2 separate regions of the Homo sapiens genome follow, and region 1 is linked to region 2. The links come from fine-mapping of genetic effects on gene expression. A gene starts in region 2. The other region holds a variant in brackets. All regions are shown on one strand. Distances are from middle to middle.

Region 1 (4,000 bases), 78 kb after region 2:
AACCTCTGCCTCCTGGATTCAAGCGATTCTCCTGCCTCAGCCTCCTGAGTAGCTGGGACTGCAGGTGCATGTCCCCACACCCAACTAATTTTGTATTTTTAGTAGAGATGGGGTTTCACCATGTTGGCCAGGCTGATCTTGAAATCCTGGCCTCAGGTGATCTGTCCACCTGAGCCTCCCAAAGCGCTGGGATTACAGGCATGAGCCACAGCGACTGGCCCCAGTTCATCATTTCTGATGTTTCCCCTTGTTGGCGTCTAATGTCTTCCCTTCTGGTGTGACTCAAATTAGCAGGGATTCTGAGCTCTCTGGGCAGCCTTCAGGGTTTGGGCTTCCACAGCATCCTGTGCTTCCTCACCTAACAAAACTTATCTCAGCACATCAGCATTTCATCTTTATTTCTGTTATCTGTGAGCTAAAGGCAGAGACCTTTATTTATTTGACTTTTTAATCTCCACGACCGAGCACACTGTTGGCATTTAATAAATGTTTGTTGAATGACTGATTTAGAAAATATTCTAAATCAAACATTCAATTCTATAGAATATATGAGGTTTTGTTCATGTTCTAAGCCAATAGTCTAGTTGTTTTTCTTCATCCCCAAACACTTGGGTTTGGCTTGCAGGAAGTTAAAGAAAGAAAAAAATTAAATGGATGAAATTTGAAGTTCCACGAATTAACAGAATTTGTACTAGTTTCAGTTTTATGGTTCAGGTTAAATGTCTTCCTCTAAGGGCCCGTATACCCCCAAAACTCCCAGAAGCCACCTGGAGTCCTGGCCCTGGGGAAGACCAAAGCCAAGACATATTAAAAGCAGAGGTTCCAACAGACCACCACAGCTGGCAAGAAGCCAAACGCATGCAAACCCGAGATGGAGTTTTAAAGGGCCATTGAAATTAATTCCCTTGAAGAGGAATGAAAACCAGATGCCTCCCCCTAGGAAAAGAGAGTGCAAAGGACAATAGCAGGAGAGGTAGCAAGAAAGGCAGTCTGAGCTTCACAAGCGATGCTTACCCACCGTTAACCCCAACAAACTGAAGGTTCTTTTTGGTCCCATTACCTCCTGCACGGAAGCCATAGTCTTTCTTTTTCATTATGGATTTAAGGCTGGTCGATGGGGAGATCTCTAGGCAGACACAACATCACAGGTTAGAATGATCTTGGGGATGCATGGGAATGTAGCAAAACCAGGATATTGCTTTGAGGGGACAAGGGTTGCAGGTGTGTGGAGAGGTAAGGAGGGACAGGGAACCAGATCATGTAAATCAATGTTTTGGGGACCTCTTGGAGGAGCCTTGCTTTCTGCTCAATGTTGGGAGAACTGTCTCTGTTAACAATGCCCCTCTAAGTGTGGATGAAGAACCATGTGGCGTAGGTGCCATTGTTGTCCCTGTCTTACAGCTGGGAAATCTGAGGCCCAGACTTGCTCAGTGAATGGGAGTGTAGGAGCAGAACGTAGGCCTCTGGACTCATGGTCTAGCACCCACTTCTGCTCAAGGGCACCTCAGTGGTCCTTCCTGGCTCACAAGTGCATACTGACACTAGGGTTGTGGGGGTGGTGATGACACCGTGCTCACAGTAGATACACGAGCAAGGACACAGATCTTGCAATGTGCTCAACAGGACAGGA[G/A]GCGGCTCCCAACGGGGAAGGCTAGAACTAGCACTGAAACAATGAGAAAGCAGTCAAATTGTGATTTGTGGCAGGAAGCAGACTCGCATGCTGCCCTGCAAAGCAAAACGTGGTTCCACTTTACCCGACAGTGAAGAGGGTTTGATCTGTTACAACAGGAAGTGCTGCTCAGCCGAAGGGCCCATTTCCATATGTGAGCAGCACTTAATCTCCTGCCCCTGTACACACACACATGCACGTACACACACACATGCACGCAGAGAAAATATTCAGTGAACTATACCAGATATCAATATAATGCTCCTCCAAAACCAGGCCAGAGAAAACCTCTACTATGCAAGAACCAGAGAGGAACACAGGAATGCAAAAGCCCAGGAAGAGGTCTGGAGTCCACGCAGCAGGGCCATTCTTGGCCCCAGACACTGCCTTTGCACAATGCAAATGAGAACAGCCCCCTCTGGGTGGATGTGGTGCTGCAGCGCAAGGCTTGGCAAATGGAGTGTGGGCTGGCTTTCAACTCTCATTTGCCCTCCCTGGCTGGCATCTTTGTGCCCTGTGCTATCCATACAGCTGTAGGCAGTGGGCCCATAGTCAGACCCAACCTTAGAGCAAAGGCAAGAGTAGAGGTCCCGAGCCTCCACTGTCACACACATCAGTTTTTATTCCACTGGGTTCCTGGAAGTACTAAAATCTTTTTTTCTTTTTTTTTTTTTTTGAGATGGAGTCTTGCTCTGTCACCCAGGCTGGAGTGCAGTGGTATGATCTCGGCTCACTGCAACCTCCGCCTCCTGGGTTCAAGTGATTCTCCTGCCTCAGCCTCCCAAGTAGCTGGGATTACAGGCTCCTGCCACCATGCCCGGCTAATTTTTGTATTTTTAGTAGAGATGGGTTTTCGCCATGTTGACCAGGCTGGTCTTGAACTCCTGATCTCAGGAGATCTTCCCACCTCCGCCTCCCAAAGTGCTGGGATTACAGGCCTGAGCCACTGCTCCCAGCTGCTAAAATCTTTTTAAAAACATGTTAATATAATTGAAAACCTTGTTCCCTCTGCCTTATCATGTGAAGGAGAAATGGCTCCCTGTCTCAGGCCCCTATATTGATGGTATTTACCCACTGGCGGGGAGGAGGAGGAGGCCGGTGGCTCCTTGGGTGGGTGAGCCTGGGCCGAGTAGGCCGACAGCAGCAGGTTGAGGGAGCTCAGCAGCTGGCTCTGGATGCTGCTGAGCTTGGAGGCTGGCTGCTTGATGGCGCTGGCCAGCTCCGGGTACCCATGCTCCAGGCAGTTCCACTGCTCCTGCAGGAGCTCCTGGATCTTCTTCACATACTGCCCAATAGTGGCATCCGTTGGCGAGCTTGGTGGCCTTCCCGGGTGCTCCTTCCCTGGGAGATTGGAACTGGTCTCCTCCCTCCCTGCTGGGGGAGTCTTTCTGTCGCTGCCCCACAGAAAGCCTCCTGCTCCCCTGGTTCCTCCCTGAGGGCCTCCTTCCTGTTCAGTGCCTGCTTCTTCAATCCTGAGTTCAGTGGAGAGGAAGCTATGTACAGAGGAGGTAAGGACCTGCTCGGGTCCCTGTGGCAGTGACAGCTGGGGCAGAAGCACACGTTCTGCTGGGCTCTGATTCCCTTGTTTATGACCATCTGGCCCCCATAGGAGGCCATTCTCCTCTCCTCGGTGCCCCCAGCTTTCAGACTCCATGCTGCCTAGAAGGTTGACTTCAATGCCCTTATCACACGACTCCCTGGTCAAGAGTCCATGGACAGGGTCAGTGTTCACCATCACGTCCGTCTGGCCCTGAGTGTCTTTGGCGTTCTCTTGGTGAAACTGTCCTTCCAGTTGGGCTACAGTGAACTCCAGCTCTCGAATTCTTTGCTCCCTAGCTTTGATTTCCTCTTCCTGCTGCTGGAGAGCAGTTCTGACCTGTGCCAGTTCCTCGGTTCTTCCAGACAACTCTCCCTCCAGGGCCGAGACCTGCTGTTTCAGGCTGGAGATGCTGCCTGGATCCACCCTGGCAAGGCCCAGGCTTTCCTCAGTTACCCTGATGCCAATGCTTCTCATGTCCACCTCTACAGGTGGCGGGGGTGGAATCTCGCTGATGTTGAGCTCGATTTCTTCCAGGAGGAGCTCATTCTCAGGGATGGGTGATGGCAGAGGTGGCGGGCTTGGCGTAGGGGAGCCAGGGGTGAACAACACCTCTGCTTCTCTGGCATTGTGTTCATCTTCCTTGTCCTCTAGAACTACAAGCACATTCTGGAATGAGAAAGGAGGGCCTGGGAGAGGGAGGTGATTTGGAACCTTCACCACACCCTCTGGAGGCTCAGCTCCCTCCTGGACCAGCTCTGGAATCCGAGTTGATGCTCGTGGGCTGGAGCTGT
Region 2 (4,519 bases):
GCTGGAGTGTAGTGGTGTGATTGTAACTGCCCAATGGGTTCACCTTGCCCACTGCCTACACAGAGCCCATTTATCAAGACAGGGGAATTGCAATAGAGAAAGAGTAATTCACACAGAGTGGGCTGTGTGGGAGACCAGAGTTTTATTACTCAAATCAATCTCCCCAAGCATTCAGGGATCAGAGTTTTTAAGGACAACTTGGTGGGAGGGGGGAAGCCAGTGAGCTGGGAGTGCTGATTGGTCAGATCAGAGATGAAATCATAGGGAGTCAAAGCTGTCTTCTTGCGCTGAATCAATTCCTGGGTGGGGGCCACCAAGATCATATCAGCCAGTTTATTGATCTGGGTGGTACCAGCTGATCCGTCAAGTGCAGGATCTGCAAAATATCTGTGGAATATCTCCCTGGTCTTAGGTTTTGCAGTAGTGGTCTTATCCCCAGAAGCCATTTGGGGAGAGTCAGAGTCTTGTAGCCTCCAGCTGCATGACTCCTAAACCATAATTTCTAATCCTGTGGCTAATTTGTTAGTACTGCAAAGGCAGTCTAAATCCCCAGGGTTTGTTTCGGGAAAGGGCTGTTATCATCTTTGTTTTAAACTATGAACAAGTGATCCTCCCACCTCAGCCTCCCAAAGTGCTGGGATTTTAGGCAGTAAGAAGAAATAAGGGATTAAAAGCAAAAGACCGAATTCTCTTTGTTTATTCATATGCTGTGTATTGACTGAACTACCAGATATTGAGGCTTCTTTGCTTATTAGCTGCATGACTTTGGGCAAGTCAAGTTCCACCTGAGCCTTGCAAGTCAGGCCTGGGGAGTCCAACCACCCAGAACCTTTGAGTCTCTGTTAGAGAGCAAGACCCTCTCTTAAGAAACAAAAATAAAACAAAAAAAGAGTATTGGGATATGGGGAGTTTGGCTCCTGTAGAAAGGGTAGTCTGGGAGGCCTGTTAGAGGAGTTAACATTGGACCTGAGACCTGAGGATGAACAGAAGCCATCCTGAAAGAACTGGGAAAATAAAGAGGTGGCCAGGCGTGGTGGCGCACGCCTGTAATCCCATCACTTTGGGAAGCTGAGGTGGGCGGATCACCAGGTCAGAAGTTCAAGACCAGCCTGACCAACATGGTGAAACCCCCCTCTACTAAAAATACAAAAACTAGCCAGGCGTGGTGGCATGGGCCTGTAATCTCAGCTACTCAGGAGGCTGAGGCAGGAGAAATCGCTTGAATCCAGGAGGCAGAGGTTGCAGTGAGCCGAGATTGCGCCACTGCACTCCAGCCTGGGTGACATAAGAAAACTCTGTCTCAAAAAGAAAAAAAAAAAATACAAAAATTTTCCGGGAGTGGTGGCGTGCTCCTGTAATCCCAGCTACTTGGGAGGCTAAGGCAGGAGAATTGCTTGAACCCAGGAGGCCGGGGTTGCAGTGAGCCAAGATCATGCCACTGCACTCCAGCTGTGGCAACAGAGACTGTCTCAAAAAAAAAAAAAAAGAAAGAAAGAAAGAAAGAAAAAGAAAAAAATAACTCGCAGAGGAAACAGCCAGTGCAAGGGCCCTGAGGCAGGTAGTTCCGTGTTTTTTGAGGAACAGAAAGAGAGTGTTTCTGTTGTAAGAGTAGTGCTAAGACAATGTTGAAGGGGCAGTCCGGATAGAATGAGAAGGTAGAAATTTAACCGAAACAGGAAGCCACTGAACAGTATTGGAGGGGGAGAAGGATTACAGAGGGGTCGTGGGAGAGGCCAGGGAGCAGTTGGAGGTGATTTCAGTGATCCAGGTGAGAGACAACGGGGGCTTGGACTGGGCTGGAGCTGTGGAGTTGGAGAGACGCCGGCAAATTCAAGGACTTAGGAATGGATTAACTGCGAGGGTTGAAGAAAAGGAATGAGGTGACCTTGGGGTTCAGGCCTGGGTGATGAGGCGCTTTAGTGGTGCCTTTATTCAGATTTGAGTCTGGAGTCGGGTCTGAGGGGTGGGGCTCGTTCAAGCGGAGGCACGGTGGAGACAGAGGGAATTGGACTCAGTCGGGGGGCAGCAATGGAAGTCAGCAATTGCTTAGGGCGGAATGCGATTTCCGGGGAGGAGGCGCGGGTATGTAGACAGAGGGGGTTGGGACACACCAGGAGGGGAGGAGCCAGCCCCAGAGATCGGGAATCCTCTCAGTCCTTAGTTACAAGGCTCCATCCTCACTTTGTTCGCTCCTCAGTCGTCCAGGCGGATTCCTTTTTCGCCAGGTAAGGCTGGCCCGGGTGCATGGGGCCCGGCGTGCCCTGGGTAAGGCTGGCCCAGGCGCGTGGGGTCCGGGGCGCGCCGGGTAAGGCTGGGCCAGGCGCGTGGGGTCCGGGGTGCCCCGGGTAAGGCTGGTCCAGGGGCGTGGGGTCCGGGGTGCCCCGGGTAAGGCTGGTCTAGGCGCGTGGGGTCCGCAGCGCCCCAAGTAAGGCTGGTCCAGGAGCGTGAGGTCCAGGGTGCCCCGGATAAGGCTGGTCCAGGCGCGAAGGGCGCGGGGTGCCCCGGGTAAGGCTGGCCCAGGTACGTGAGGCCCGAGGTGCCCCAGGCAAGGCTGATCCGGGTGCGTGCGTGGGGCCCGGGTAGGGGCAGGCAGTTGGCCCCCTCACTTGACTCCCTGCTCTTTCCCTTACTGTCCGTGGCGCAATGAGAAAAAAACTCTCCTAAGACTTATCTATCCCCAAATTGGAAACATGAAAGTAGTTCTGTGAAGAAAAAATAAAGTCAAGAAAATGAGGTGGTGCTTGACAAGTCCTAGCTTTAGAAAAAGGATGGAGGGGCCGGGAGCAGTGGCTCACGCCTGTAATCCCAGCACTTTGGGAAGCCGAGGCGGGCGGATCACCTGAGGTCGGAGTTCGAGACCATCCTGACCAACATGGAGAAACCTCGTCTCTACTAAAAATACAAAATTAGCCAGGCGTGGTGGCGCATGCCTGTAATCCTAGCTACTCAGGAGGCTGAGGCAGGAGAATCGCTTGAACCCGAGAGGCAGAGGTTGCACTGAGACGAGATCGCGCCATTGCGCTCCAGACTGGGCAACAGGGGCGAAACTGTCTCAAATAAAAAAAGATGGAGGGCCGGGCGTGTTATTTTCCAGCACTTTGGGAGGCCGAGGCGGGGGCGGATCACGAGGTCAGGAGATCGAGACCATCCTGGCCAACTTGGGAAACCCCGTCTCTACCAAAAATACAAAATTAGCCGGGTGTGTTGGCTCGCGCCTGTAGTCCCAGCTACTAGGGAGGCCGAGGCAGGAGAATCGCTTGAACCGGGGAGGCGGAGGTTGCAGTGAGCCGAGATCGGGCCACTACACTCCAGCCTGGGCGGCAGAGCGAAACTCCGTCTCAAAAAAAAAAAAAAGTGTTTAATTATGTGACTGGAAAAATTGATTTGGAAGTAATAACTTTTGCATTTTCTTCAATTTCCTCCGATTGTTAGGCAAATCGAATTCTTGTTCAAATTGCAAAAGGAAAGCGTGCCTTCCATAATAATAGACCCCAACTCTCACAAAGAAGAAACCATTCTCTCCGGCCCCTCCCTGGCCTCCTCAGATCCACCTCTGGGTCCTCCCATTCCCTGCAGCCCTCTCCCGACTTACACCCCAGACTCTGCTAATTGTGTGTGCCTTTTTAAGCAAACACATGCATAGATAAGTGCTTTTTTTTCCCAGTCTTCAATATAAGGTGATTTTCTACATTAAATAAACCTTAAACTTTGGTGTTATGAACTTGACTTGAATTCTAGGCACCAAGGCACAGCTTAGAGTAGACCCGAGTCCTGCTCTGCGGAGTTCGTCTTCCCAGCGAAGGTACAGAGGCGGATGAACTGCTGAGACTTGGTAAGTAGTTTAGTGGATTAGGGGTAGGATTAGTGGCGGGTAAGTGTGCGGGTGGGGTTGGGGTGGGGTATTTCATTTTTTGAGACGGAGTTTCGCTCTTGTCGCCCAGGCTGGAGTGCAATGGTGCCATCTCCGCTCACTGCAACCTACGCCTCCTGGGTTCAAGCGATTCTACTCCCTCAGCCTCCCAAGTAGCTGGGATTACAGGCGCCTGCCATTATACCCGGCTAATTTTTGTATTTTTAGTAGAGACGGGGTTTTGCCATTCGGCCAGGGTGGTCTCGAGCTCCTGACCTCAGGTGATCCTTCCACCTCCATCTCCTAAAGTGATGGGATTACAGGCGTGAGTCACTGCGCCTGGACTGGGGAGGGGTATTTTAGAGTGAAACAAGGGAAATGACCTTGGGTCTGATAAAGAAATGAGCCCTACTTATAATCTAGTGTGGGTCAGGACCCTTTTGCAGTCTGGTGCTATTAGCAGAACCCACAGTTCGTCATCGCTAGAAACCACATTTTGTTTCACATAACAGTTGTTGCAGGTTTTGCATTCTCACTACTTCAAGATTAAAAGGTAGGGCCAGGTGTGGTGGCTCACACCTGTAATCCCAGCACTTTGGGAGGTTGAGGAGGCCAGATCACTTAAGGTCAGCAGTTCGAGACCAGTCTGGCCAACATGGCGAAACCCCA

Evidence for each region. PIP is the estimated chance that this variant, and not a neighbour inherited with it, causes the effect. A credible set is the group of variants that fine-mapping cannot tell apart.
Region 1: its variant is the best candidate, but not a certain one, in a credible set for the expression of L1TD1 in whole blood (TOPMed, PIP 0.63).

Annotation. Positions count from the first base shown.
Region 1 is chr1:62,270,464-62,274,463 of GRCh38, forward strand. It overlaps KANK4 (KN motif and ankyrin repeat domains 4), which reads right to left. Exons shown (of 10, transcript NM_181712.5): 3 at 2,741-4,000; 4 at 1,015-1,126. Among named protein-coding and RNA genes, the nearest start is that of KANK4, 47 kb to the right of the region's middle. The variant G/A (reference allele first, on the strand shown) is at 1,631.
Region 2 is chr1:62,192,697-62,197,215 of GRCh38, forward strand. It overlaps L1TD1 (LINE1 type transposase domain containing 1), which reads left to right and starts at 2,153. Exons shown (of 4, transcript NM_019079.5): 1 at 2,153-2,225; 2 at 3,739-3,832. RefSeq lists enhancers at 1,296-2,152, 2,153-3,008.